Homo sapiens: one gene and its partner. The protein of the gene in region 1 purifies or fractionates together with the protein of each later gene. This does not show direct contact. Each region holds a gene or a part of one and is shown in the gene's direction. Other genes may lie near its edges.

The links. Proteins that work in one complex are often made in the same cells at the same time.
Region 2: the proteins of BRWD3 (region 1) and ZNF469 purify together in Homo sapiens (affinity purification with mass spectrometry, with the first as the bait; one large-scale study listed by BioGRID). This does not show direct contact.

The regions. Positions count from the first base shown.
Region 1 is NC_000023.11:80,799,549-80,803,756, reverse strand, and holds part of BRWD3 (bromodomain and WD repeat-containing protein 3), read left to right. Parts: intron 1-4,208. UniProt on the Homo sapiens protein: Plays a role in the regulation of cell morphology and cytoskeletal organization. Required in the control of cell shape.
Region 2 is NC_000016.10:88,424,106-88,427,958, forward strand, and holds part of ZNF469 (zinc finger protein 469), read left to right. Parts: exon of another isoform or gene 1-701; 5' UTR 702-766; exon of another isoform or gene 767-2,161; intron 2,162-3,239; 5' UTR 3,240-3,365; coding exon 3,366-3,853. UniProt on the Homo sapiens protein: May be involved in transcriptional regulation.

The DNA.
Region 1 (4,208 bases):
TGTTTGATTTATTAACTGCCATGTGGACATAGCCATAGTTAGGAAGAACAGGATGCATCATGGGATATCAAAAAGCATGCTCTGCTCAACCCCAGTGCAGTGTATTGTGCATATAATGCTAACTGATAGGTATTATGACAGAGAGAGGTCAATATCTGGAAATCGGTATTCCTGACTACTCCTGACTACTGACTTGCTTGAGCCACCACGCGCTCTCTGAAATATATTGGCTTTAGCGATTTGTCTAGATTGATCCTTGGCATTTTTTTTTCCACAGATGGGCTCTAAGGAACGTACTTTCAATGATTTAAAATCCTTTTGGAGATTTATCATTAATCTTAGGATAACTGGTATCTCAGTACAAATGAGATACTGTGAAAGTGAAGAGAGCTGGTGTTAGGGACTAATACTTTGGATTCAGTGAACTTGCCTTAATGAAATTTTGTCCTGAGCATCTTTGTCACATTTGAATATTAGTTTTAGTTCCTGTGTTTTAGTTTTTGTTTTACTACTGATGTTGATTACTGATTGATTAATAAACACTTTCCTTTTGGTAGGCAGCAAAATGGTATTCTAAAAAGGTAGTTTAGTGTTTGTGTCATAATTTAGAGATGCCCTTGCTTGACATTTCTTTTTTTTTTTTTTTTTTTTTTTTGAGATGGAGTCTTGCGCTGTCGCCCAGGCTGGAAGGCAGTGGCGCAATCTCGGCTCACTGCAAGCTCCGCCTCCCGGGTTCACGCCATTCTCCTGCCTCAGCCTCCTGAGTAGCTGGGACTACAGGCGCCCGCTACGCCCGGCTAATTTTTTGTATTTTTAGCAGAGACGGGGTTTCTCCGTGTTAGCCAGGATGGTCTCGATCTCCTGACCTCGTGATCTGCCTGCCTCGGCCTCCCAAAGTGCTGAGATTACAGGCGTGAGCCACCGCACCTGGCCTGCTTGACATTTCTTACATGGGATTTTGTGAGTAGTAGAAAAGACCCTAATATTTAGTATGGAATATAGCCTTTACTTGTTGAGTGACCCTAGGGAAATTACTTAAGCTCTCAGAGATTGACTTTCCTCAATTATAAAATGAAAATTTCCCATTTATTGTGGGGAACAAGTGAGTTAAATGTGAAAGAATGCATTTTGTTAATTGTAAAATGCTGTGCAAATGAATTGTTCGCTACATTTTAAAATTAGGATAGAGAGACCGAATAGCCAGCATGGAAATCTGGAGAACTATGACCCCAGATGTTATATTTTCTTAGTCGATGAGATATCATCCCCTAATTTTCTTAATTTTTAATTTTTTTTTTTTTTTTTTTTTTTTTTAAGATGAGAGTCTTGCTCTGTCGCCCAGGCTGGAGTGCAGTGGTGCGATCTTGGCTCACTGCAACCTCCGCCTCCCAGGTACAAGTGATTCTCCTTCCTCAGCCTCCCAAGTAGCTGGGATTATAGGCGTGCGCCACCAGACCTGGGTAATTTTTGTATTTTCAGTAGAGGTGGAGTTTCACCGTGTTGGCCAAGGCTAGTCTTGAACTCCTGACCTCCAGTGATCCGCCCACCTCAACCTCCTAAAGTGTTGGGATTACAGGCGTGAGCCACCATTCCTGGCCCTTAATATTTTTATAAAGTAAGGGGCATATAAAACAGTACTATAAAAAAAGAATATTTAAAATGTTAGTGTCAGAATTGAACTCAGAATGAGTGAGCTGTTTCTGTGTTAACACAAACATGAATGTATGTCAAAAGATATTTAGTGTAATATGCATTTTTTATGAATGCCAGTGTAACACTGGTGTAGTATTCACTTTTTTTTTTAAACAAATGGGAATTTTATTGTGAGTCTTTCATATGTCTTATTGCAGGGATTCTCAACCCTTCTGATTGTATCCTGAATTTATTTTCTATATATTATTGAGATTTATTTACTTATTTATTTGAGACAGAGTTTTGCTCTGTGACCCAGGCTGGAGTGAAGTGGCACTCACTGCAACCTCCACTTCCCGGGCTCAAGCCATTCTCCTGCCCTAGCTTCCAGAGTAGCTGGGATTACAGGCATGCACCACCATGCCCACGTAATTTTTTGTATTTTTAGTAGACGTGGGGTTTCACCATGTTGGTCAGGCTGGTCTTGAATTCCTGACCTCAAGTGATCAGCCCACCTACGCCTCCCAAAATGTTGGGATTACAGGTGTGAGCCACCACACCTGGCCTAATTTCTCGTATTTTAAGTTACCCTGTTTAAAATGTTTTCTCGTCCGGGCGCGGTTGCTCACGCCTGTAATCCCAGCACTTTGGGAGGCCTAGGTGGGTGGATCATGAGGTCAGGAGTTCAAGACCAGCCTGGCCAAGATGGTGAAACCCTGTCTCTACTAAAAATACAAAAAATTAGGCGCGGTGGCAGGCGCCTGTAATCCCAGCTACTCCAGAGGCTGAGGCAGGAGAATCCATTGAATTTGGAGGGCGGAGGTTGCAGTGAGCCCAGATCTCGCCCACTGCCCTCCAGCCTGGGTGACAGAGTGAGACTCCATCTCAAAAAAAAAAAAAAAAAAAAAAAGATGTTTTCTCATGCCCCTTAGTATCCGCCATTGTGTCTTATAGTTAGCTGGGTCTCAATTATTTGTGGTTTTCTTAACTTTTTTTAGAAGCATGATATATATAGATATATATATTTGGTTTATTTTATCTGCTAGTTGGTACTGGGTTCTTTTGTTGGACTTTTCTCTACTGAGCACCTACTAGAATGTGGGTGGGTCCCCTGTCCTTGTCTTAATTTCATCTGCCCTCAGGTTATAGTGCTTTTCAGTGCTTTCTTGAGGCAGTGTAAGCCAGAGAATACTTGACCCTAGGAGGGTCGCTTCTGGTGGTCTCTTTCTTGAGGAAATCTTAAAACTAATAAAAAGAAAAAGAAATGCTATGCATAATGATTAGCATTTTCAAAGGTGAGTGATAGGAAGTTTTAACATTTTGTAAGAGCAACTAGGGAAAGGCCTGCCTGCTGTCTTTTTTTTCTTTTTTTTCCCCTGCCCGGTTTTTCACTTCTCTTTCAAATTCAGCAACCATTAAAACACAGCATTTGATTTAGGTTATTGTAGACATCAAAAAGAGAAAACCCAGTTAATTTTTTATGTTTTCTTTTATGTTCAAAGAGAAAAACCAGTTAATTTATGTTTTCTTCCAGTCTTGTTTTTTTTTTTGTACAAGTATTTGTATTTGTATTTTTTTTTTTTTTGAGACAGCATCTCACTCTGTTACCCAGGCTGGAGTGCAGTGGCTCGATCATGGCTCACTGCAGCCTCCACCTCCCGGGCTCAATCAATCCTCCCACCTCAGCCTCTGATAGCTGGGACTACAGGCATGCACCGTCATGTCTGGCTAATAATTTTACTTTTTATAGAGATGGGATCTCACTTTTTTTTGCCCAGGCTGGTCTTGATTTCTTGGGCTCAAGCGATCCTCCTAGGATTACAGACCTAAGCCACTGTACCCTGGGGTTTTTCATTAAAAAAAAAAAAAAAAGAAGCCCTTCTTAATAAGGAGATATTATGCACTAGTTACCATGCAGAATTGTATTGGGTTGGGGTGCCTTTCTCTTTGCTTGGAATGCCCTTCTTTCCCTTTCTGTCTTGTGAACTTTTCTTATATTTTTCAAGGGTGAAACTGGACATGAACCCTTAAACCTCTAGGCAAAATTAGGTGTACCTTACTTCTTTGCTTCCTTAGTTCTCTACTGACCTCTGGGCACTTGCAGCTTAATTTGTTTCTATTTACTATTTTGTTTGCTCCTCTAAGACTATGGGTTCCCTTAGGGCAGCAATTTAATCTTCTTTCCATTGCTTTCCTATACTTTAAATGGCTGAATGAATGCATGAGTGGATGACTGTCTTTGTCCTAACCGAACTTTAGTAGATAGTTATCATTACTGTTTTACAGATGAGGAAGTTCAGGCTCAGAGAGGCTAAGAAACTTTGCCTAAGGTCATATAAGTAGTAACTGGGATGCTGCAAAGATTCAAATCAGTCTCTCTACTGGATCATACTGCCAAAAAAGAGTAACAGCTAGTAAATTTTAGTTCCAGGCTCTCAGACTTCAAAGTACCCTGTTATCTCTGTAGTACACTTACATTGATATAAAGCTTTGCTGTATTTTTCAAAATCCATTTTGTTTTCTGTCCCTAAAGAGCAAAAGATTACATGACTAACTTTTGTATATGCCTGTTCTGT
Region 2 (3,853 bases), on another chromosome or scaffold:
GTGACCATTGCTGTATTGTTTCTAAGGGCCGAATGCAGGCAGCAGCCCAGTGTCCATCCAGACAGGTCTGGGTGCTCTGCAGCCTGGATGCGAGGACGAGTGGACAGAGAGTGAGAAACCTCTTCACGGAATGTTGTGGGATTATCTACAGGATATGTTGTTACATGAAAAAAAGGTCAGGTGCAGAACAGTGAGCGTAGCCGACGATCTTCTGTTGAAGGAAGGAGGAAAGGCAGTGTGTGTTCCTGTGTGCTGGTGTTTGCATCCAGGGACTCTGGGAGGAAACACCAGAAGCTCCTCTAGTCTCCCCAGCGGGACTGGGGAGGGATCCTGGCAGGGATGGGAGGGGCAGCGTTCTCACTGCAACTCGTAATAATCTGGAGCTTCGGAGCTGCATGTACACACAATCTATGCGTACATAAAGACCCAACAAAAAGAGATTTAAGATAGCCGTCAAAGCTGCAGCTGAGGCAGCCAGGTGACCCCTAAACCCTTCAGGGTCCCCCGGGCCAGCTGAGCTGCCCGCTGGCCTCTGAGGGGAGCTCACCCATCTCCCGGTGGCTCTTGGTGGCTTCCCGGTGCCCTGAGGCCACAGCCGGCTCTGCCCAGGAGCCGCTCCCTCCCACCTGGCTTCTCCTCGGGCTCTTGGTCCAGAGCCATGCACCACATCGGCCCTGACATGCTTTCCATTTTCTTTGCAGCCAAGAAATTCTCATTCCTCAGGAAGTTGTGCGGCGACCCAGCTGAGGGGCCCCCGACTCCCCAGGTATGTACAGGCAGCAGCCTGCACCGAGGCTGGCCACAGATGCTCTGGTCTTGATGGTCCTGAGGCCCCCTCCGCCCCCACCCGCCCGGCCTTCCTCTCCCTCTCAGGACAGTAACCGGGCCTGCCTACTGCCTCCCGAGAGCCGACTCCTGGGGCCCGCCGGGCAGGGCTTCCAGCCACAGCTCTGAGCCAGCAGGCGGGCGTGTCACCTGATGTTCCTCATGGCAGCCGCTGAGCCAGCAGGCCTCACTCCTTCCCTTGATAAATCAGACCAGCTCCTTCCCTTGACAAAGCCCCTGGGCACAGCTGTGTTCTCAACACTCCTCCCCACCATCCAGGACTCCGTAAAGGCCACCTCCTCCAGGAGGCCTTTATGATGCTCCATCTGGGCTGAGGTCCCCACTCTGAGCCCCCTCCTCCTCCATCACCTCCTGGAGGACTCTGGCCATGGGTAGGGGGGTCTGACATGTGGGACTGGGCTTCATGTGGGGCCTGGCTGTTGCTGTTCCTACCCCCAACCCTGCAGCCTGGCCCCAGTGGGTGTCTGGGCCATGTGGGACATGGCTAAGCCCAGTGCAGGGCAGGAGATGTGCAGGGCAGGAGATGTGCAGGGCAGGAGATGTGCAGGGCTAGGAGCCAGCCCTCCCAGGAGGACCTCGCCTACACTGGCTGAGGCCTTGAGCGGGTTCCCCACCTCTCTGTGCCTGGATTCCTCACCCATAAATTCAGGGCGACAATCACAGATCACCTCTGAGCCACCGTGAGCACAAGGGAGGCAGTTCAGGAAAGTGCTCAGACGCCCAGCATCATTTATTCACTCAACAAACCTCACCTGTGAATCCTGGCCCCAAGGACTCCCAGGCCTTTGCCCCCTGGCAGTGGATCCCAGAAGAGGGAAAGGGGCCCTCCTCCCGGGGTCATGGGACAGGAGGTACCTCAGTGGTGGGGGCAGAGGAGGAAGGGGCACCCGGGCCCCCCAGCTGGCATGACTCTTTTTGGTGGTGTGATGTGGAGTTTGCAGGCTGGGACCTCGCCCACCCTGGAGACCTTGGCCCAAATTGGGCAGGACCCTCCTCCCCGGTGCAGGCAGTCCCTGGGCACAGCAGGAAGAGCCAGCCGGAAGTACAGGTACCAACCTCGTGCTGGGGACAGAGGGCCTGCCAGCCTCTGCGTTAGGAGTCCCCAGGCGGCTGTAGTGCGGGAACTCCGGGAGGGGCATGAGACACCACCAGCTCAGGCCGGTGGGAGGGTCCTGTGACCTCAGGAGGCAGCCCCCGCCTCCACAGAGGCAGCAGGGTCTCTGAGAGTGCTCCAGGCCTGAGGCCTGTCCCTTCAGCTCCCAGCTGCTCTGCTGCTGGCTGTGTGACCCTGGCCAAGTCATCCGCCTCTCTGGGCCTGCCATGAGGACCCAGGGGTCAGTGGCAAGGACAATGCCTGCAAGGGCTGAGCCCTGCCTCACTCTGCTGTGTAAAGGACGCCCGGTCCCTGCTGGGCAAGTCAGAAGGGGCCCCCACACGGAGCGGCCTGCGCACCTCGTGGCCACAGCCAATGGCTCGGGTCTGAGTCCTGTCCGCACAGAGGACAGTCCCGTATGTCATGACATGAGAACAGACATGATGAGTGTGAAGCCAGCCCTGGGTGAGCAAGGGGCCAGGCTCCTCTGGGCAAGCGGCTCCTGCTACATCTGGCATGTGCCAGAATGGGAGCCGGCACCGTCTGGAGGCTGGGGGCTTCCTGGAGCAGGATCTGGAGGTTACCCTGTAAGGCCTGGTGGCAGGGAGACCCTGGCTGACGGCAGGATCTGGAGGTTACCCTGTAAGGCCTGGTGGCAGGGAGACCCTGGCTGACGGCAGGATCTGGAGGTTACCCTGTAAGGCCTGGTGGCAGGGAGACCCTGGCTGACGGCAGGGGAGTCCCCGCTTGGAACCAGCCGCCCAGGCCCTGAGAGGTTCAGGTTGAGCCTCTGCTGCCTCAGTCCCCTATGTCCTGCAACGCAGCCTCCTGCCTCAAGGCCCTCCCCATGGCAGGTGTAAGCATCCACCTGGGCCCTCCTGGACGCTGCCAGGACCCTGCCCTGGGGCAGTTCCTGCAGGCTGAGAGCTTGTGCCCCACACAGGTGCCTGTCCTCTCCACAGCCTGGCCGAGGACTGCTCTGAGCCTGTAAGCGGCCTCCTCACACCCCAGAAAGCTCCCCCTCCCTCCCCCTCCACTCAATCTCTGCGCTCCACCGCCCCTCTTCTCCCTAAGACAGGGAAGGGTCCCTGTTCCATCTGGCGGGATGCCCTCTCCCTTCCTGCTTCTAGGTAGGGGCTGAGCCGAGCATCCCTTCTAAGCGCGGAGCTTCTGTGATGGCTGCACGCAGCCTCTTCTGCTTCTGGCCCGGCCACACCCGCATGGAGAGCCTAGAAGCTCCCTGTCTAGGCGAGGGCCACCCAGCCCCTCTGCCCCACTCACCCCTGACCTTTCCTTCCAGGCTCCACTCAGGACCATGAGCGCAGGCTTCCCTGGGGCCCATCGAGGGCTGAGGATGGCCGTCCAGCCCACTCCCCAGGGCCCCCCTCGGACAGCTGCGTCGTCCTAGCGCCAGGACGGAGGGGCCATGCCTGGGGAGCGCCCCCGAGGAGCGCCGCCCCCCACCATGACTGGAGACCTGCAGCCCCGCCAAGTTGCCAGCAGCCCGGGGCACCCCTCCCAGCCGCCACTGGAGGACAACACCCCAGCTACCAGGACCACCAAGGGTGCCAGGGAGGCTGGCGGCCAGGCCCAGGCCATGGAGCTCCCCGAGGCCCAGCCAAGGCAGGCCAGGGACGGGGAGCTCAAGCCCCCATCCCTGAGAGGCCAGGCCCCGAGCAGCACCCCTGGGAAGAGGGGCAGCCCCCAGACCCCACCGGGGAGAAGCCCCTTGCAGGCTCCCTCAAGGCTGGCGGGCAGGGCAGAGGGCAGCCCCCCACAGCGCTACATTCTGGGCATCGCCAGCTCGAGGACCAAGCCCACCCTGGACGAGACACCAGAGAACCCACAGCTGGAGGCTGCCCAGCTCCCTGAGGTGGACACCCCCCAGGGCCCTGGGACTGGAGCTCCACTCAG